2 separate regions of the Homo sapiens genome follow, and region 1 is linked to region 2. The links come from fine-mapping of genetic effects on gene expression. A gene starts in region 2. The other region holds a variant in brackets. All regions are shown on one strand. Distances are between the middles of the regions. Region 1 overlaps FAM169A (family with sequence similarity 169 member A). Region 2 holds the start of NSA2 (NSA2 ribosome biogenesis factor).

The links. PIP is the estimated chance that this variant, and not a neighbour inherited with it, causes the effect.
Region 1: its variant is fine-mapped to the expression of NSA2 in whole blood (INTERVAL, PIP above 0.99).

The regions. Positions count from the first base shown.
Region 1 is chr5:74,819,465-74,831,048 of GRCh38, reverse strand. The region is part of intron 5 of FAM169A (family with sequence similarity 169 member A); the gene reads left to right. Among named protein-coding and RNA genes, the nearest start is that of FAM169A-AS1, 41 kb to the left of the region's middle. The variant C/T (reference allele first, on the strand shown) is at 5,228.
Region 2 is chr5:74,760,247-74,771,830 of GRCh38, reverse strand. It overlaps NSA2 (NSA2 ribosome biogenesis factor), which reads right to left and starts at 4,582. Exons shown (of 6, transcript NM_014886.6): 1 at 4,468-4,582; 2 at 2,713-2,900; 3 at 2,467-2,617; 4 at 1,021-1,200. The coding sequence starts at 4,470. GFM2 (GTP dependent ribosome recycling factor mitochondrial 2) reads left to right here and starts at 4,714. Exons shown (of 21, transcript NM_032380.5): 1 at 4,714-4,893; 2 at 8,065-8,151; 3 at 10,845-10,929. The coding sequence starts at 8,089. RefSeq lists an enhancer at 4,562-5,001.

The DNA of each region.
Region 1 (11,584 bases), 59 kb before region 2:
AATTTAAGAGAAAGGTTGTTAAGTTGAAAGACTATGATAGATAGTAAAGGAAGATTTATTTCTTGGAGTCTTGAGAAGAGAAGATTCAATAAGAGTAAATGCAGGTAGTGTTTTGTCATCAAAGCCCCAGTGTATGACCCTGAGACATTATGCTATATAGGAATAAAGATTATTTCTCAATAGGCGAAATTATGAAAATGCAAAACTCTTCAGCTACTCATTTATATATCAATATTTTGGGTCAAATGCTTTTATGATTTATTCTTAGTAGGTTAATTTTCAGACATTATAGTTTCAAGTTTGGGCATTATCTTGTTATTCCTTAAATACAGACTGTAAAAATTATGTATTCCCTGTTTAAAAAAAAATAGATATGTGATGTATAGTCATGGTGACAGGTACATGATCTATAGTGAACTGGGATATATGCAGTTTTTTTGAATAACATTTCTAAGGCTAGGAATTATTTAATGATAGTTCCTAATAGTAAACACCCGTTGCATTGTATTTCTCATAATCTCCTGTGTCTATTGGCACCTTCCCCACAATCCACTGGGATAGTTAGTATTTTTTTCTGTAGTTGTCATTATTGCTTAGTGGGATTAGAGCACATCTTCACAGGATCCATAGTTAACAGTCCCTCTACTTATCAAGTTTGGTTTTCATTATCCTTGTCAGTTTTTTAGGCTTGTAGCAACAGATCATGACTAGTAATAAAAGGTATTTATTGAGCACATCATGTTCGACATTGAAGAGTTATAGTTTACTTCTTTCTTTTCCTATATTATAGGTAGTTTTATAGTAATCTGTAATCTTAAGTCAAGTTGCAAGTTCCCCATCATCAAGGGCTTCTCTTTCCTCTCTTTTTATGTTGTTGTGTGAGGGGGATTCTTATCTAGGTAAATGGAATTATTTAATTTTTCTAATATTGTGCTGTTTACTTTTTCCTAATGACCATTAGATTAACAAAGTTGATACAGTAATTACTTTTGGTAGAACATTCAAAATGCTACCACCTTAGGGAATAAATCATTAAGTGATCTGTATTTTATTCCCCATATTTCTTTTTTTTTGAGATGGAGTCTCACTCTGTCACCAGGCTGGCTGGAGTACAGTGGCACGACCTCGGCTAACTTCAACCTCTGCCTCCTGGGTTCAAGCGATTCTCTTGCCTCAGCCTTCTGAGTAGCTGGGGTTACAGGCACGTGCCATTACGCCCGGCTAATTTTGTATTTTTCATAGAGATGGGGTTTCACCATGTTGGTCAAGCTGGTCTCGATCTCCTGACCTCAGATGATCCACCTGTCTTGGGCTCCCAAAGTGCTGGGATTATAGGCGTGAGTCACCACGCCTGTCGGGCTTCTTGTAAAGGGTCGTTTAATTATTTTTTTGAGCTAGGGTCTTGCTCTGTTGCCCAGGCTGGAGTGCAGTTGCGCAATCATGGCTCACTACAACCTCAACCTCCTAGGCTCAATTGATCCACCTGCCTCAGCCTCTCAAGTATTTTAGTTTTCTATTTAAGGAAGGAAATCTTGCTATTACTTTTCTTTGTACCTGTGTTTATATAACTTAATTCATAAAACACGGGCTTAGCAACAAATAGAGATTAGATCTGTGTCATAGGAAAATGACAAATTATTGCCTATCTTGGACCTGCGTGGTGACTTGCATTCACAAGAAACCATAGATGCTAAATCCACAAATACCTTTATCTTATGGCATGGCACTAAAGACTTAAAGGAAAGCACTTGATGAAAGATAATAGAAAATGTTCATGGTTGCAAAATCAGATATTTTATAGTCGTTCCGTTTGAGTACTTCATGTGTAACAAAAACTTACCTGCAAAAATAGTTTATAAAAGGATGAAAACTGCAGAGAAAGCCTTTTTATGACACAGAAGGGAGCGTAAAAGAAGAAAAAATTGTTCTATACTGAGTTTTACAATAATTGCTATACTAAGTTATGTAATATTTTTAGTTTATTCAGGACACCGTTCAAAATTCATTGACCTCAGGCGTAGAACTTTGTATTCAAAGTCTGTATAAGTCATACATGTACTCTTGCAAACTTTTCTCAGAATTTTGTAGTGAAAATTTGGATGGCATGTTGAGGAGTTTATATTGCTAGTGGTAGGCAGGGTGTGGCTATAGTGCTAATGCTTTGGTTAAAGAGGGTGGGTTGAACACGTGCCTCAGCCTCTACTCTCTCTTGCAAACACCACCAGAATGACACCAAAGACATTTTTAAACAGCATAAATCCCACATGACGAAGTGAGTAAGAGGAGAGTGTAACAGCAACAAAACTTTATAATCTGGGAAAAGGGTAGATTATGTAGTAACTGAATCCTAAGATGCCATTGCCCAAGGCAGGAAGCACCACATTTATATTTTAGAACCTTTAAAAAGTTCAGTCATTATAACACTAGCTACTTCTGGGAGGTGGAGCCTTAGAAAAGGATTGGCTGAAAGTTCCTTCCCTAATGCAGCACAGCTGGACAGTTACCCCAGCCTTGCTCTGGGAAAAGACCTGCTCCTGGGGGCACATGGAGACTTTCAGGTATGGTGGCAACATTTGTGTTAGGGAATAAATTATCTTCCTTCTCCCATTTTACAAAATGAAGGTATATCTTTCATCTAACCTTTATCTTGCTAATCTGGAGTTGTAAAAAGGTCTGGAAGTCCCACTTTAAAAAAAGAAAAAAGAAGGCAGGGAGAGGCCTCTAAATAGTTTTGTAGTAGTGTAAAAGTGACTGGATATAATTAGATGATATTCTTTTGTAAGTCAGGTGGTTTCTATTTGTTTTCAACAAAAATGAAAGAGGATTTGAGTTGTGTTTAATAATGCCAGATTATTAAAGATAATTTTTTATAATAGATCACTGTGTGATATGTGGCACATAACTAAGGACACTTACATTGCTATAACGAAGGGTTTTCTGGTTCCTTCTTATTTGAACAAGGTTCTTAAGCACTTATATCTATAAAAATAAAAAATAGGAATAGGATTAATGCTGAACTTTGTCTCATTCTGGTAGTAAGTAATTCATGAACTCATAAACTAATTAAAAAATGATACACTCCAGGCCAGGCATGGTGGCTCCCTTCTGTAATTCCAGCACTTTGGGAGGCCAAGGTGGGCAGATCACCCGAGGTCAGGAGTTCAAGATGAGCCTAGACGACATGGTGAAACTCCGTCTGTACAAAAAAAAATACAAAAATTAGCCGGGCATGATGGCGGGTTCCTGTAATTCCAGCTACTCAGGAGGCTGAGGTGGGAGAATCGCTTTAACCCGGGAGGTGGAGGTTGCAGTGAACCGAGATTGCACCATTGCACTCCAGCCTGGGTGACAGACACTCCATCTCAAAAAAAAAAAAAAAGATAAGCTCCATCTATTTCATTAACAGTTGTATTTAAAATAATATTTGGTTTTATTTTGCTTAGTAATTAGTTTTCCCGATATATGTGTTTTGATTTGTTGTATACTAATATAATAATTATAATAATTCCAAATTTCTTTTGGATCAATACTTAGAACATTAGGATCACAAGATATTTTTAGAATTTATATACAAATATATTCTTGTAGAGAAAAATGATTGGATAATCAGTAAACTTCCATGCATAAAAATATTACATCAGGATAACATTCTGTGGAATAAATATCATAGAAATATTAGTGCAAGGAGAAGAAGGAGCAGTGTAAAACTGTTAAGGAATAGTTTGTTCAATGGATGGTAACAGTTACCAGATTGATTATAGTTTCTAGAGTCCATTTGATACATATAAAAGAAGGGTGTAATAGTTTTGTTTTTCTTTAAGTCAATGTTATTTATTAACTGCAAAGGGAAAAATGGTAAATTTACACAGAGAAACCTGGCAGGTACCATGTTAACCAACAGATTATGGTTAACATCACTAGTAATAAGACATATCAACATCATGTATCCCATGATATATGATGTACTGAGAAGGGCACAGTATCATTCTGTAGCATTTTTGCCCAAAATTTATGATCTCAGTTCATTCATGAGAAACCATTAGACAAAGCCAAATTAGGAGAGTTATTCTATAAAGTAACTGACAATCAGCCATAGTGTCAAGGTTATGAGTGACAAGGGGAGATGGAGGAATTATCGAAGACCAGAGTTTAGGGATATATTAAACTAAATGCAGGAAGGAATTCTGGATTGGATTCTGAAACAGAAAAGAACATTAGTGGAATAATGTGTGAAATTTGAATAAAGTCTGTAGTTTAGCTAACAGTATTATAGCAATGTTAATTTCCTGGTTTTGATAATAGTATTTTGGCTATATAGGATGTTAACATTAGGGTGAAGGGTATATGGGAGCTCTTTGTAATGTTTTTGTGACTTTTCTATAAGTCTACAATTGTTTTTAAAATAGTTTTTTAAAAGTCAACAATATGTCAGAAATAACATCTTCTGTAATTATTGATTGAAACTTAGATGAAAATTTTTAGATATCACAAGGATGTGTGAATATATGGTATTTCAAAATTATTTTATGGCTACATGAGCAAAAACGTCTCCTTTGAGGAGTTTGACTAGGCCAAAAGAAAAAAGAAACTAAAAATACCAATATAAATGGTTCCCCTAGGAAAGGCTCCAGCCATATCATCCTGCTGTGAGGTCCATTGCCAGCAAGCCCCACCATACACACAGAGCTTCTAATTAGCTTTTTAATATCTCATTCTTAATTATGAACAGATAGTCATAGGTAAGGAAGGCCACTGATGTGAAAAATGGTGATTAAAGCAAAAGAGAGTAAAAGAGATTTGGAGGAGAAGACAATGCAAAAAATGTGGCCCTTAAAATTTTTGGAAAAGTTAGTCATTGCATTTATGAAATAAGAACAAGAATGTTCACAGAGCTCTTAGAAACTAAAACAAATCCAATAGAGTTGGAGGAGGTTGATCAGAAAGGAGTGCAGAAACAACAAAAAACAAACCTAAATGATGGTAAATAGGAAGAGATGATAAAATTAGAGGGATTATTTAAATAATACATGTTTCAGGAGGAGAGAACAAATTGGAGGAGAAAAAATCACCAATAAAATAATTCACTAACATTTCTCAGAACTGTAGAACACACATTTCCAGATTAAAAGGGCCCATTGAGCATCCATCACAATGAATTAAGATACACTCATACCAAGATTATTGTGAAATTTCAGAGCATCTGGAATAGAGAAAAGATTTTGAAAGC[C/T]TCCATAAAGTGAGAGAATGATTTAGACAAAAGATCAAGAATCAAAACGTTACTAGAGTTCTCAACAGCAACATGAATACTAGAAGTGGAATAATGCCTTTAAGATACCAAGGGTAAAGTGATTTCCAGTGTGTTCTGTGCCCCGTCAAATTAATAAAGAGTGAGAGTGAAAGAAGGAAATTTCTAGACTGTCAGTCTTAAAACAATTTACCTTTTATATACCCCTTTTCTGGAAGTGAGTAGAGTTTGTGCTCTCCTAAGATAAAGAAAATCAAGAAGGAAAGATGGGATTAGGAAACTAAGAGAGAAAAGAAAGGAGATCCAACATCACAGCTATGTCAGTTGTGGAGCTGCTCTTTGTTAAAACCACTAGCTTTATGTGGCTGTTGAAGTTAAATTTTAAAATTCAGTTTCTCAGTCATGCTGGCCACATTTTAAGAGCTCAATGGCCACATGTGACTAGTGGCTACTGCATTGGACAGAGTAGATACAGAACTTTTCCATCATTGCAGAATGATCTTTTGGACATTTCTTTTTCTAAAGATTGACTGATCTAGATTGGAGCAGATCACAAAGCTCTGGGACGTTGATTTAAGAAGATAGAGTTCATAGAATACCTGATGTATTTGAATTTATTGGGATAAGATTTACATAGTTACTGGAGACTTTGGAGGATGAGAGAGATAGTAATAAATATTATTAAGGGAAATCAAAAAGTGTAAGAATAAAGATAAAAATAAACATTCATGGTACACTATATGGCTCAGTTGTCAAAAGCATTTATATAGTCATAATGTAAATACTGAAAATTGATCTAACAAATCACAAATTACTATTTAGGGGTGTTGGGGTTTTTTGTATGGGAAGTGTGTTTATGTTGGAGTTGAGATTGGGGTGTGTGAATGTATTTAAGAGCTAAATTCTCACCTTCCAAGTTCTAGCTATCTATGCCTAAAATGGAAAAATGAAGAAATAGAAATCAAGAGGTATAGTAAGTTACTTAGAGAAGTAGAAGTAAATACCGAAAATATCAGCTAAATGACTTCAAAATGGTTGCTTTTGGGGTGTAGAAAGTGTGTTTGTGTGTGTGTATGTGTGTGTGTGTGTGTGTGTATGTGTGTGTATCAGGAAAGTGGTCACAGAGCTGCTTTTTTTTTTTCTTAAGTCTTATATGACTATTGTATTCTAAACAATGTTATGGATGACTTTGATTAAAAACAAGAAGTATACATTTAAAAAAATGAGGCCATGTCCAAAGTGTAATCACTATCTACCACAAAACTAGCTGAACTTTATAAATCCTTCTCAGCCTGGAATGATAAGGACTATCTGTTAAAGGGCTGTGCTAATTAGAAGATTAATGAAAAAGTCTCATACAGTTACTAAAATAATACAAAACAAATCACTGGTTAATTCAGTGGAAGTTTTGTGACTTTTGGCCTATATCAAGAAGTATATAAAGATGCAAATTTGTGTAAATAGCATACCGTATTTTAGTGTAGATAAGCTCAGAGAACACAATTGAGGTCACTATCATTAGTCGCTATTTTTGAAGTACTCATTGTTATTTGGCTTCAACTGTCAATTGCCTTGATCCAATTTGAAGACTTAATATTTTGGGGAAGAACAATCTAGTCAACAACTACTATAAGTCAGTTTAGCCCACTACTGAAGGGATTTGTGACCAATACCAGGAAGTGTATTTCTGGTTTTTGTAATCTTCATTTGAGGTGATTTGTAATGGAAGCATTTTTTCTTGTCCACATTTACTCGTCAGCTTTCCTTGTGGCTTCCAGACCTTTTACTAGGGGCTATATCCATGATCTTCCCTACTTTTTTGGACAGATTACTCACTTCCTGTTCACTAAAATTCAGATTTCTGGGCCTTTTAAGGTTATTTTAAGGAATAACAAACATTGTGATGTAAAATTATAAGGATTGATAGTATAGCTAAAAGTGAAACCCAGCTGAATTTTTTGTTGGGAGAGTGTGATTATATTTTAAGGACTTGAGTCTGTCTAGGTGTGATTCTTGTCTTTGGGAAATGTGCAAAGGCATGTGAGAGTCCCGTACTACTCTGTGGCTACCTGAAATGTATCATTGGGAAACGAGATGGCTGCTTTGTTGAGGTGAAGTTCTAGCTATCTGAAAAACCACTTGCTTGCCAATAAGGGTTCTGTTTATTCGAGAGATAGAGTTGACTTTAGTGGAAACACAAAGATGATTTGTCATGGGTTCAGTTCTCAAAGCACCAAAAATCTAGTGGATGAGACAGTAAAACCCACAACATCATAGTCGATAAGCTGTATTATTAGATAATCAAAATTCAGTTTTGTAAGTAATACATTTGAGGTATCAACAATGGCAGTCTTTGAAAGCAAGTAGTTAACTTTGCCTGGAGGGAGGTGTGACTGGGAAAGTGATATTTAAAAGTAGTTTTGAAGGGTAAGTAGTTTGTCAGTAAGAGAAGGGGGAAGGGAAAGAACATTCTTGGTAAACATGAATGGAATATAAATATATGCAGAAGGCAGAGAGTCATGAAAGTTTAGGGCATATTTGGAACTACATCCTGAATAAGGTGGTGGGACTAACAAGTAGGAGAAGTGAAGATGGAGGTCCCATTGCAAAGGATCTTAATTGTCCTACAAAGAAGTGTGGCATTTTATTGGCCAGGAAGCTATCAAATAATTTTATGTAGAAGTAACATGATTAAATATTTTAGGGACATACTGTTTGGAGCACTTGGAAAATTGTATTTTAAAGTCAGGGAAGTCAATTAAAAGAGCTGTTTTAGTAGTTCAGGTGAATGAAGGACCAGAACTAGGAAAGCACCAGTAGGAGTGGAGAAGGGAACATCTGAGGGAGAGTTTCAGGTGGACAGAGTGTGGTAACTCCATAGTGTGTAGGCGGGGAGTGGAGGAACTAGTGATGAATCTGAATGGCTTTGGCTTGGGTGCTTAGGTATTGGTGGGAGGCTGTTAATTAAGATTGGGAATAGAAGAAGAGGAGTAGTTTGATAATACTTTAGTTCAATTTTGACATGGGCATATGTGTCCCTAAGGCATATGTAAGTAGACATAACATAGAAATGTAAGTTGGAGCACATGGAAGAGGTATGGATATTTATGTGGGCCCCAGAATACTTAAAGTAATTTTACAGCGTGGATGAGATCAGTCAAAACTGTTGTATAAAGTGAGTGTATTTGTGAATATTGGTATGAGGAAATGACACTGAAAACAGCCTAAAGTAACCAAACATTACTGGAGGGAGTATTCTGGCAAAAGGTAGTGTCTCCTGAGATGTGACCACTGATGACCTGAGAGTTAACAAGGAAATGTTGATCTGCTGAGAGATAAGAGGAAAGTTAGCTGAGGCTGCTAGCTGTCCATAAAATATTTGTGGTTCATTTTCTATATTCTAGTCATTGGCCAGAGCTGCCCAGTCAGGGATTCTATTTTCCAGTCACTGTTACAACTACATGGGGCTGTGTGACTAGTTCTTTACAAAATAATGAAAAAGATGATGCCTGTGACTTTGCGTCAAAGTGGTTAAGATGCATTCCTTTTCCTCATCTATACAGAGGACTTTGAAGATGTAAGGGATGAGGAAGCCACAGGATAAAAGGAACTTGGTGGCCCTGGTGGACCACACTTCCCAGTATTTACATCCTTGTGTAGCCTGTTTGAATCTGGGCTGGCCCTATAACTTGCTTTAACCAGGAGAATGCATAACACTGTGCTCAGCCTTAAGAAGGCTGGCAGGTTCCACTTTGGCACTCTTAGAAGCTAGTCACCATGTAAGAAATACAACGACCTGGAGACTACTCTGAGGTGAAGAGACCCCAGCAGCTCCATTGAAGAGAACTGAGGCTCTGGCTGACAAGACCAGCTGTTTCTTCCACCTGCAGCCACTACAGACTGTCCCACTGTAGGAGTGAGGCCATTGGATCTTCTGCCATCCCAGTGCCCTAGCTGATGCCCTATGAGAGTTGTGATAAATAGGAAATAAATTTTAGTTCTAAGCCAATATGTTTTGGGCTGGTTTTTAGGCAGCAGTAGGTAACTGAAACAGTTCCTTCATGATTGTGAGGAGGAAACCATCCACTTCCCAGGAACGTGTAACTGTTAATTTGAACAAAAAAGGAACTTTTATTATGTTAAACATTCCAGGTTTGGTTTGTTACGGCAGCTAGCATTGCCTTAACTAATTTATAGAGCATGAAGACTGTAATGAGAATACCTAGTGGTATATGACAGGTTCGCTCATCTGAGGATAATCTGAATTTCTGAATAATCTGAATCTGATAATCTGAATCTGAAATTCACTTTATGTATGTCTTCAATGGAGACAGTCACACACTGATGGCTTCATGAGGTGTTAAGTTTTAAGGGGAGAGAAGGCATATTCCTGGGTGGACAAAGAATGAATGGTGATTCTATGAGAAGAAGCAGCTGCTCAGTTGTGGCAGAATATCTGTTCTTGAATTCAATACATAGACCTGAATGGTGTCGCTGAAATTTATTCATTTATTAAAAAGTTGATCTTAAGTGCATATAGATAGGGAAAGGGAGGCGGGGGAAGTGTGAGAAAGAGCAAGAGGAAGAAATTGAGAGATAGTCATAGATATTTTATAAGCTCTGTCCTCTTAGAACTTAGATTTTAGAAGGAGACATAGCAATGAATGGACAAGTAGATGATATGCTGTCAGATGATGTGAAGACAACCAAAGTAAATTAAAAGAATAGAACGTGTGGGACAGCAGGTACTATTTTAAACGGAATAGTTAGGGGAAGTCTCTCTGAATGAAGTGATGGAATAGTGAGATCAGGAGAAGAAATTTTCAGGCAAAGAGCTGAAAATGCAGAAGCCCTGAGGCAGAAACAAGTTTGGGATACTTCAGAAATAGTAAGAGCAGTGTGGCCAGAGTATAGTGATTGATATGGATTAGGAGAGAGGCAGGGACTGTATCCTGAAAGGTTTTTTAGGCCAAAGAAAGAATTTGAATTTTTTTCTGCAGGTGATGGGAAACTATTGAAGGGTTTTGGGTATAGGAGTAACATCTGGTTTGTCTTTTAAAAAGGCAAATCTGGCTGCTCTGTGGGAAACTGGGTGCAGGGGTTCTGGGTGCTGCAGAGATGGCAGGGTTGAGTTCAGCTAGCTAAGAGGCTGTTGTAGAAGCCCTGGTGAGAGGTGACAGTAGCTTAGACAAGGGAGATGGGGTAGAGGTGGTAAGAAGTGATCATGTTTGAGATTAGTTATGAAGTGATTCCTGCAGGATTTCTGATGGATTGTACGTGGGCTGTGAAGGAAGAGTCAAACATGAGTTCCTAGAGTGGGCGAGTAGGGGCGAGGTTTACTAAAAAATTGGTAAACTAGGTAGAGTAGGTTTTGGGGCTGTCTGCAAAATCTGGTTATAAATGGTTTATTGGAGTCACTTGTAAGTTGATATTTTGTTTTTACATTTTTAACAACTACCTGAGATATTCATATACCATACAATTCACCCATTTAAAATATACAATTCAGGCTGGGTGCGGTGGCTAATGCCTGTAATCCCAACACTTTGGGAGGCTGAGGTGGGTGGATCACCTGAGGTTAGGAGTTTGAGGCCAGCCTGGCCAACACAGTGAAACCCCATCTCTACTAAAAATACAAAAAATTAACTGTGTGTGGTGCTGCATACCTGTAATCCCAGCTACTAGGGAGGCTGAGGCATGAGAATTGCTTGAACCCAGGAGGTGGAGGTTGCATTGAGCCAAGACGGCCCAGTGCACTCCAGCCTGGGCAACAGAATGAGACTCTGCCTCAAAAAAAAAAAAAAAAAAAAGGATACAATTCAGTTTTTAAAAATACATTCACAGAATTATGAAACCATTACCACAGCTAATTTTAGATAATTTTCATCCCTCCGCTAAAGAAACTCTGTTCATTAGCAGTCTCTCCCCATTTCCTCCTCACTCCTAGGCCCCAGCCCTCAACAACCACTAATCTATTTTATATGAATAATATGTGACTTTTTGTGTCTGGCGTCTTTTGTTTAGCATAACATTTTTAAGTTTTATTCATATGGTAGCATGTATCAGCACCTTATTCCTTTTTATGACCAAATAGTATTACCTTGTATAGATACACCAGTTTTGTTATCAGTTGATAAATAACAGTTTGGGGTTGTTTCTGTTTTTTGTCATTGTTGCTATTTTGAACAATGCTGATATGAACAATTGTATACAAGTTGTTGTTTGGACATGTCTTCAAGTCTCCTGGAGTGTGTATGTAGTTGTGGAATTGCTGGGTCATATGGTAACTCCGTTTCGCCTTTTGAGAAACTGCCAAACTGTCTTCCATAGAGACTGTAC
Region 2 (11,584 bases):
CCAGGCTGGAGTGCAGTGGCATGATCTCCACTCACTGCAAGCTCTGCCTCCCAGATTCACGCCATTCTCCTGCCTCAGCCTCCCAGGCAGCTGGGACTACAGGCGCCCGCCACCATGCCCGGCTAATTTCTTGTATTTTTTTTTTTTAGTAGAGATGGGGTTTCACAGTGTTAGCCAGGATGGTCTTGATCACCTGACCTCGTGATCTGCCTGCATCGGCCTCCCAAAGTGCTGGGATTACAGGCGTGAGCCACCGCGCCCGGCTTTTCAATGATTTTCAAAAGCATTTAGATACTTTCCTTATCAAACTGGAATTGACTCTTATAAAACAGTCCTACTCAAGTTTTCGAACTGCTGTCAAAGACAAGAAGTGTTTTGAGACCTAGACAATATCAGGCATATTGTAGATCACTAGTTTAATGAGGAAAATATGACTGTGGAAAATGAAGATTCTAATATGTCATGTTTAAAAGTCAGAATTCACTGACAATGTCTTATGATACTACTTTTTCAAATCTCTCACGAAGCTGAAAAGATTTTTTTTTTTTTTGAGACGGATTTTTGCTCTTCTTGCCCAGGCTGGAGTGCAATGGCGTGATCTCAGCTCACTGCAACCTCCGCCTCCCAGGTTCAAGCGATTCTCCTGCCTCAGCCTCCCTAGTAGCTGGGATTACAGGCGCCCGCCACCACGCCCAGCTTATTTTTTGTATTTTTTAGTACAGATAGGGTTTCACTACATTGGCCAGGCTGGTCTTGAACTCCTAACTTCAGGTGATCCACCCACCTCAACCTCCCAAAGTGCTGGGATTACAGGTGTGAGCCACCGCACTGGGCTAAAGATTTTTGACTAGTGGAAAAAGTACTAAATAACTTCTGTCAATAAAATAACAAAAATTGCATAAAAATATCTTTCAACCTGTTCCACATCAATTTAAAGAATTTCAGGAAATGATAATGTTCTTTATCCGATTTAATAAAGTCAACTAACATTTCGGTCATTACACTCTTCCAAGGACTTACCATTGGCCTGATGAATCTTTCATATTTAGGTGGTTTTCTTGTAAAGCCATCTCCAACAAAGCACACTTTAGTAACCATTCTCTTCCATGCCTTCTTCTTTCTCTTTCCTGTTCGAATAACTTTTAATACTTCTGTTTCTCCCTGGGCACGTACTTTAGGCAGAGGGACTTCCCATTTTCCCTAAAAATATGCCACAGTTAAAAGTTTATATTGTTATTAAAGGACAATGAGAATAAGTCAAATATGTTTTAGTTGTACAAAGTAATAGATCTATTTTTTTTGCTTGACCATCAACACATTTTTGGCTCAACCGTCTTCTAGAGGTCTGTATTGTCTCATAAGCTGCAAATTAAACAGAACAAGTTTATATATCATGGGTATGTTAAATAAATGGTTGGCTTAAGCTAAAAATCTTAATGCTGTGTTATGGGTGAGAAAATACCACCTGTAATGTGGTGGTTTTTTTTTTTTTTTTTTTTAGATGGAGTCTCGCTCTGTTGCTCAGGCTGGAGTGCAGTGGTACAATCTTGGCTCACTGTGCAGCCTCCGCCTCCTGGGTACAAGCAATTCTCCTGTCTTAGCCTCCCGAGTAGCTGGGACTACAGACACACACCACCACACCCAGCTAATTTTTGTATTTTTAGTAGAGGTGGGGTTTCACCACATTGGTCAGGCTGGTCTTGAACTCCTGACCTCAGGTGATCCACCTGCCTTGGCTTCCCAAAGTGCTGGGATTACAGGCGTGAGTCACGGTGCCCAGCCGATAGTGACTTCTATAAGCAGTATATGTGTTTACTAATGTTTAATAGCATAATACTGGAAGAGTGTTTCCACCTCTTAATATGTCTCTGTATTTCTTCCCGAGATGGATCTGTAGATCACTAGCAAGACAAAATCCTCACCAGATGTTTTATGCCTCCCTTGAGTGCAAATTCTATGAAAAAACTGAAATAGTGTAAGGCAGTAAAAATAATTCTTTAAATATAAATACTGCATATTCTTTTATCTGGATTTCTGCTAATCTATTTACAGGTGTTTTAAAAAGCCACATTTTTTGTGACAACTCAGGGAGTTTTCCACCATTCTACTTTTTAACCAAGTTTGGCACTACAGGGCAGCACAAATAAGAAGCATTTGTATTTTTCTTTATGACTGCATAGCACTGTGGGTTTTCAAACAGGAAGACAAATATTGAATTTGAAATTCACTCCTTACCAGCTTTTTAATTTCATATGGCATTCTAATAAATTTTTTTTATAACTTAAATTTTAAAACCTTATGATGAGAAAGCAAGTTTTTTATTAAATTTACAAAGACTTCAACATCTAAATAATGGGAATAATAGCTGTACTTCATGTTTGAAATTAAACCGAGAAACAAGAACCTCAAATTTGAATTTAAGTAATTCTCCTAAACAAAACAAAGACTTCAATTGTTATTGCTTACCGCCTTCTCTTTTCTTTTCTGTTTAATCATATTGGAAAGTACTTTAGCTCGAGATTGTCCCTCTCTGTCCAGCAGATAGGCAGGTACTGCTCCCTGTGGTGTCTTTTCATCATTCTTTTGTTTGGTGTTTCTCTTTTCATGCATCTTGATACTACCAAGAAGGAAAAAAGATTCAAGATTATCTGTTTTAATAATGATTACTCAAAAGATGTTAACTTGTTATGACAAATAAATGAGACCACTTACGTCTTTTTCATTTGTATTTTCTCAGCATGACGCTGTTTATGGTAAAGCTTAGCCTTCAGACCAATCATTTTCTTTGCCTTCTTTGAACGTTCATGAGCCTCTCGACTTTCCTTCTTTCTCTTTTTCTCATGGTAATCCAAACGGTATCCATAGCGTTTACGGTGTAATTCAATATATTCATTCTGTGGCTATAATGATGGAAGAAATATTATTTTAATTTTTTAAAGTACTGACAATTATTCTAAAATGCTTTCTTTTACACAGCACAAAGACCCTGTTTCATCCAAATGTTCACTTACTTAAATGATTCTTGCACCATTAAGTTTATTCACATGATGTAAGTTAAATTTTGGTCTTGAATGATATGAGGCATCAGGGCTTACATCTCTAATAATCTCATTAGGGAATGGTCCAAAATCTACTGGACCACAAAAGGGATGAACTGATTACAGTATCTTTTTTCCTTGACATAATTTGCTTTTTTAATAACACCTTCATTTCACATTTAAAAAATTTAAGTCAGTTTTATTGAAGCATAATTTACACACAGTAAAACCTGTCCTTTTTAGGTATACAGTTCTAAGTTTTTCCTAACTACACAGTTCTGTAACCACCACAATCAAAATACAAAGAATTTCCATTTCCCCCTAAAATTCCCTATGTAACTTTTAAGTCAATCCTCTTTCCCAACCCTCAGTTTGATACCTATCCCTACAGTTTTGCCTTTCCCAGAATGAAACAGGGATCAACAGTAGTACATAGCCTTTTGAATCTGGTTTCTTGCTTTTGGGATTCACCCAATTTGCTGCAGGTATAGGAACTTCAATCCTTTTTATTGTTGAGTAGTATGCTATTGTATGGATACACCACTGTTTACCCGCTGACCAGATGATAGGTATCAGGGTTGTTCCCAGTTTTGGGTGATTACGAATAAATCTGCAATAAACAACTGCATGCAAGTCTTCATGTGGACGTGTGTTTACTGCCAGACCGTTTTCCAAAAGTGCATTATTTTTCTTTTCACCAGCAATGTATGGGATGCTTTTTGCATTTTAGACACGTTTTAAACACGCGGCCAGGCGTGAGTCTATTCGTATTTTAAGGCTGCAAAAATAAAAATGATACAAAGCCAAGTCCAGCACAGAGAGCAATGTTAAGTAACAACCAACAAGGTGTGCTGCTACCAACTGCTATCACATAAACTTTGCAGCAATCACATGAAGGGTGTATGGAATGCCATTTTGCAAAGAAACGCAGATTATAGAGACGTAACACAAAGAGAAAGGACCTGGCAGTTAGATCTGGGCCGTTAAGCCCGGCTTCGCAATTCATTAGCTGTCTGGTCTTTGGCAAGGACGCCTTCAGTTTCCTCAGCAGTAAAATGAAGGGGGCGGGACTGACATCTAAGACTGTACAAGGGACAACCATATTCCCATTAGGCTCTGGGGCTGATAACCACGCTTGTGGTGAAATCAGGAATTTTTAGGACTCTTAGCGGTGGATCAAAAAGAAAAAAGAAAACAGGACAGAGTAAAATCTTGCTCCAAAGCTTGTGTTCTGGCAAATACCGTCTGTGTCTCGAATGTGAAGTTGTTTCCACTCCTCAGAGCCCACCCCACGGGTCTACCATCCTTTTCTCTTGGCAGTTCTCATTTCCGCCTACCACCGCTCACCCCCTACCCCAGCGCCCCAGAGTCCTCAGGTCCCACTAACTCAGACGCTGTGTGTCGCGAGCGTCCGAGGCATCCTCCTTACCATGGTGACGGCCGCAGAGCCGCCAGGAGCAGCCGCTGGAGTGCGAAAACGCTCTCAATTTTCGGGTCTCAAAGACCCACAAGCCCACACCACGCAGGCCGGGACAGGAAAGAGTCACCCTTTAAAACGGCCGAGTGAAGAGCAAGAACCACGCAGCGGTTCCGAGCCTCTGTTTTCCGCTTTTAGCTAGGAGGACGGAAGTTGCTGGCAGGCGGCATTTGGCCGGTACACCGCCGGAAGTGTGGAGGTGTGGCTGCCCGAGGCGGTAGAGCGGAGAAAGCCTATTTTCTTTTCGTTTAGATACATTGCCTTTTGCCTAGGCTGGCGTCGAGACTTGAGGCCGTTGCAGACTTTGGCGCGGCTCGCGCCTCCTGCTTCAAGAGCCCAGCGGTGAGAGCTGGCCTGCGGCACGCGGCCTAATGCCAGGTGAGTACTGCTCCGAGCTGTGAGACATCGCGCGCCTGTGACCCTGTCACAGCGCTGGGTACCGCTGACCTTTCAGGCTGCGACGGACACAGCCAGCCACGGAAGAGGACAACAGGGCCTCCGGACTCCCCTCGGTGTTCGCTCAGTATGGAAGTTTTTCTCTATCATTCGGCGAAGTCGACTCATCTTTGTTCCGGTCACTCTGTGTAATGTGTGCATGATTGTGAAGGATACTGAGGAATGAAAACTTAGTGTACAGAAAAATGGAACTACTGGGGCTTTGCAGCTGTTAGAAAAGAAGAAGATAACATTCTGGTTTTTTGGAGGTACAGGACTGATTCCAGAAATTTCTGAGGCATTTTGGTGCACCGAATCAAATGCTGAGTGGACTTGTATTTAGTGGCCCCCTAGTGTCAAGAAGTAATTAACTACCAGAAAGTACGTCTACTTAAATACACTATCAGGTTTACCCTTTTACTGCACAGTTGCAGAAGTTCCCTTAATTACTTCACAGCTTGCAGCGTGATTCAGTTGATGAACAAAAAGAACTGTACCAAAAGAATACTTTCATTAATTCTTAGTGCTTGTATTTGAGGCAGTATTTTGTTTTTGTTTTTGTTTTTATGGGTATTTTGAGACGGCATCTCGCCCAGTCGCCCAGGCTGGAGTGCAGGGGCACGAGCTCGGCTCACCGCAGCCTCGACCTCCCGGGATCAAGCGATCCTCCGACCTCAGCCTCAAAAGTAGCGAGCTACAGGCTCGCGCCACGAAGCCTGGCTGATTTTTGTAGTTTTTGTAGAGATGAGGTTTCACCGTGTTGCCCAGGCTGGTCTCGAACTCCCGGGTACGAGCGATCCACCCGCCTCGGCCTCCCAAAGTGTTGGGATTACAGGCTTGAGCCACAGCGCCCGGCTTTGAGGCAGTTTTTGTTTTGTTTTGAGACGGAGTTTCAATCTTGTCGCACAGGCTGGAGTGCAAATGCGCCATCTCGTCTCACTGCAACCTCTGCCTCCCGGGTTCAAGCGATTCTCCAGGTTCAGCCTCCCAAGTAGCTGGAATTATAGGCGCTCGCCACCACACCCAGCTAATATTTTTGTATTTTTAGTAGAGATGGGGTTTCACCATGTTGGTCGGGCTGGTTTCGAACTCCTGACTTCAGGTGATCCACCTGCCTCGGCCTCCCAAAGTGCTGGAATTACAGGCGTGAGCCACCGAGCCCCGCCTTTGAAGCAGTTTTTTAAGGCTCCATTTTCTAAGGTGATCTCATCATTCTCTTTAAAACCAGAAATAGTAACTAGCATTTGTATATTTTAGGTACAGTACGTTATATAATCTCTTTGCCTTTAATGCGCCCCTCCCCGCCGTCCCTCAATCCCCCGAATTTCCTCCCTCATCTACTTCAGGTCTTTGCTTAAATGTCACTGTTTGAATGAGGCCTTCCTTGATCTCTTTACTTACAGTTCTAACTGTCCCAATTCCTCCTTCCTGCTTCATTCTTCTCTACAGCACCCTATCATCATGGGAGAGACTATGTATTGTATTCGTTACTTTTGTTTGTTGTCTGTATCCCCTGACTACGGTAGAGGCAGTATGAGGGCAGAGATTGTTGTCTTTTGTTCACTGCATTAACGCTGATATCTAGAAAGCAGTGGGTAGGCAGACACACAGTAAATTCTTGTTGAATAAATGGGAACGAATAGGCTTGGGCGGGGGAGGGCTGGGTTGTGCAAATTATCTTTTTATTGACAACCACTGAGTTAAAGAAGAGGAAAATGTCTATTACAGTCACAACTGTGGAGAGACTATGAGGCCCTGAACTTTGGCGTTACCAATGAAAAGGGAATGGATTCAAGGCCAGGCATGGTGGCTCACGCCTGTAATCCCAGCACTTTGGGAGGCCGAGGTGGGTAGATCACTTGAGGTCAGGAGTTCACGACCAGTCTGGCTAACATGGCGAAACCCCGTCTCTACTAAAAATACAAAAAGTAGCCAAGTGTGGTGGCACATGCCTGTAGTTCCAGCTACTCGGGAGGCTGAGGCAGGAGAATCGCTTGAACCCAGGAGGCAGAGGTTGCAGGGAGCTGAGATCAAGCCACTGCACTCCAGGCTTGGTGACAGGGCAAGACCCTGTCTCAAAAAAAAAAAAAAAAAAAAAAAAACAACAAAGGGAACAGATTCAAATATATTTAGGAAATCAAATGTAAGTATTAGATGACTTTCTAAATAAGAGTAGTGAATGTTTCTTAGCTAAGATCCAGAAAGAACAGACTTAGGAGTAGTAATGAGGTTTCACATATCTTAATAACATGGATCACAATGGTTTAACACAGGGGTGTCTAATCTTTTGGTTTCCCTGGGCCACACTGGAAGAATTGTCTTTGGCCACACATAAAATCACTAATGATAACTAACAATAGCTGATGAGCTAAAAAAAAATAAAAAAAACCTCATAATATTTTAAGAAAGTTTACGAATTTATGTTGGGCTGCATATAAAGATATCGTGGGCCGCATGTGGCCTGCAGGCCACGGGTTGGACAAGCTTGGTTTAACATGGTCTGTCTGTCTCCCCAGCATCCCCAGTCTCAGCTGCGTCCTTATATTTCTAATAGCTTTGATATTGTACTTGAAACATAGTGAATATTTAGCAAATGTTTTTAAACTAAAGATGCTTAGTTTCTATAATCAGAGAGGAAGAGGACTTGCTTTTATATATTTTTTACATGATTTAGTTTTTACATGGTATGGTAGGAAAATCAGAGTATACAAATGAATCAATAAATTTTACTGCCAATTAGAAATTACCAAGTTAATATGTGGATGCTTAGCTTTTTATGCTTAATTCTATACATTTACATAACAATGCATTTTGGTTGATACAATGTTTTGTAATTTCAATAAGTTGATTTCTACTGTATCGCCATATCTTTCTTTAAACATTACATTGACAAATAAGGGACATTTTAAACCTAAAAACCATATTTCTCATATTTAATCAGAATTTTCCATTTTCTGAATGATGCATTGAATTTTTGGTAGCTAAAAATATTGTTCCAACTTTTTAAAAGTAATACATTTTACCATACATATTACATATGTCTAACTTACATATGCCTTGCTGACATGTAATACATAAGTTTAGTTTTTTGATTTTGTATATTTATTTTTTCAGACAGTAACAGTTTGGAGGATCAAGATGTTGACCAACTTGAGGATATTTGCAATGAGTCATCAGACAATACCCAGTGTGTATATTAATGTAAGCATTTCTTATAAAATTAAGTGTCCTTTAACAACCTCAGCTCCTTTACTGCCTAAAATGCCCAGTATATCTCATCAGCTGTTGATTCCAAATTTAGTTGAGTCATAACCTTTGGAAATCTTCAAGCTAAACTAATTTGAAAGTAATTACCTTAATTTATTAAGAAATATAAGAGGAAATTACCTTAATTTAAAAGTAAAAGAACAGCTGTAGCTAAATACTGGTCTCATGGAGTACTAAAATGCCAGTTGTTTTTGAAGGAGGGGTAGGGTTTTATATCTAAGAATGTCATCACTTAATGCACATCTTTAAACTACTAACAAATAATGTGCTTTGTAATATTAAGTATCCATGGATTGAGACTCTTATGAAATAAAGTTTCTGTTAATATCAAAGTACAACATAATTATACAATGGTTGATACAACTACTTTTGGCTGTCTTCTGCAGAGCTGTTGGAAGCCAGCTTCTTCGGCAGTCTGATATTTGTCTCAGGAACATTGTTTTAGTCTTTAGCTCTGGTCTGACTCCTGAATCCTCTTCAAAACACTATAAATTATTTTCTAAACTATCACATCTTCAGTATACTTAAAGATATTAAATCTCAAACATAATAATACCCTTTTTATCTATAGCTAAGTGAGAGATTACTTTAAAGCTTGTTTGGGTTGTTTCTTTTTATCTTCAGTGACTTAACAGGGAGTACAATAGTTTCCCCTTATTCATGGTTTTGCTGTTTAGCTGTTTCAGTTGCTCAGAGTCAACTGTGGTCTGAAAATTAAATGGGAAATTCCAGAAATAATTCATAAGTTTTAAATTGTGTGCCATTCTGAGTACTGTGATGAAATCTCATGCCATCCCACTTAATCCCACCTGGGAGGTGAGTCATTCCTTTGCCCAGCATATCCACATTGTATACACTCCCCACCCATGAGTCAGTAGCCATCTGGGTTATCAGATTCACTGTTGTGATACTGCAGTGCTTGTGTTCAAGTAACCTTTATTTTACTTAATCACGGTCCCAGAGCGCAAGAGTAGTGATGCTGGCAATTTGGATGTGCCAAAGAGAAGCCATAAAGTGCTCCCTTTAAGTGAAAAGGTGAACATTCTTGGCTTAATAAGGAAAAAAACAAATCATATGCTGAGGTTGCTAAGATCTATGGTAGGAATGAATCTTCTATCCATGAAATTGTGAAGAAAGAAAAAGACATTTTTGCTAGTTTTACTGTTGCACTTCAAACTACAAAAATTATGGTCACATAACATGATAAGAGCTCAGTTAAGATGGAAAAGGTATTCAGTTTGTGGGCAGAAGACATGAACAGAACCATGTTCTGATTGATAGTAATTAGGTTCTGTACTATCTGAGGTTTCAGGAATCCACTGGGGGTCTTGGAATATAACCCCTGTGGATAGGGTGTGACTGCTGTATGGGAGAACCTGTAACCCTTAAGAAGCCTTACCATTCGTCTACAGTTTTTTTGTTGTTGTTGCTAAGAAGCCTTACCATTCATCTACAATTTTTTTTTGCTACTTTAAAAATCACCTGAGCAGCATTTTGAAGAAGATATATTTCTGTATTCCATTTGTGATCTCATTAAGTGGCCCAAGGAGTTACCCAGTTTTTCTTCAGTGCTTTTATTGCTGACGCTTTCAGACTATGCACGCTGTGATAGACACTGGGTCTTATCCTAGTCATTATGCAGTGGAATTATTTTCTGAGGATAGTAGCTTATTATTGCCAGAAACTTGGTAACTAATGTAGAAATAATATAGATCGCACAGATACGCAGTTCATGAAACAAAAAGCAGATTGTGGTGGCCCTAAATCATTACATACACTAACAATTCCAACTACATTGGCAGCTATTAAATGTATATCTAGTGGTCTGGGCATAAACTGAGGTGGAGAATATTCAGCCTTTACATGAGAACATGAGAAGGTTAGGTAAGCAGCTAAGGTAGAGGAGGTAGGCTTGGCCTTAAGCAGACCTGCTCTAACTCAGTGATTCTCAGTTGAATGCTACATTGGAGACACCCTGGGAATTTTTTTTAAATGCCACTGCCCAGTTCCTCCAGTTCTCATTTTCTCTCCCCACCCCCGTGTCTTCAAGAAGCTTTCCAGATGATTCTAATGTGTAACTGTAATAAATCCTGAAAACAACTAATGGTTTTAGAGTTCATTGCCCCCTACAGACCTTTCAGCAGATGTAGAGGAAAACCAAGGTGTATCCTGGGTGAGATACCTTATTTAACCTTTCTGACTCAGCTTCTGACTTTCAGAACTTTAGGGTTGTGGTTCTCAATCTGTAGCTATTAGAATCAACTGGAGAGCTAGTTTAAACAGATTGTTTGGCTCCATCCCCAAGAGTTTCTGATTCTCTTGTCTGGATTGGAGCCTAAGCATGTTTTTCAAACAAGCCCTCAGCCCATGCTAATGCTGCAGGTTGAGGAAAACCATTGTTTTAAGGTCAGCTCAAAATAGCAAATCAGTATTAATTTTATCCTTATTCTTTCCCCTAGGATATATTTGGATTGTCACTTTTTAAAAGAATTGGAGTTAATAAATTAGGACTACTTTAAAGCTATACAAAATATTTTATCTTCTGACAAAGCGTAATTACAATATTAACACTGTAATAAGTGATGCTAAAATAAAATTAATGCCAAGTTTCTTTTTCTCTTTACTAGAATATATGCTGCTATAAAATAAGAGCAAGTTTAAAAAGATTAAAGCCACATGTGCCGCTTGGAAGAAATTGCAGTTCTCTACCAGGTACAAATGTTAGAGTCTTCTAATTTTATCTAAGCTGTTTGCTTTATCTCTTTTCTCTCTCTTGTTTGCAAGAATCTCCCTTATTAGGGCTCTGTAACCATTTTTTACTTCTTGGCTATTTCCTTGAGATTATTAGGGGCGGGAGTGTTCAGATAGGTGCCAGAAGGAAATACTAGTAGAGTTGTGCTCCTTATCTGAGGAACACGCTGATGAACTGAGCAAAGGAAAGGTTGGTGGCTTTAGTAGCTAGTTTGCAAGTTTAACATGTGAGTGTAATTGTAGAGTGCTCTTGTGAATTTCTTTTTCTAGTTTATTTCTGTTTTTTATGCAAGTGTTTTCTGTCAAGAGAGATTTACTAGAATAATTTATTTTGAGGATTGTTATAAGTAGTTTGGCTAAGTATTTGGGATTGTTTAGGTTAGATACATGGCATCAGAAGCTGGAAGGTGGAGGAGTTGACTTACTTTTGAATGTCCTTTCTGTGTTTGAAACAAGCAAGTGTATGGTAGACTCTATGAAACTAGTTTAATTCTGTTGCTGTTCTCATTACTGTGTTTGTCATGTGAGAATAATAGAATAAAAATACTGATTGGCTGTTGACTTACAAGGGCAGATTAATTTAATGGGCTACGTTATTGGTGTGTATCTAGGTCTC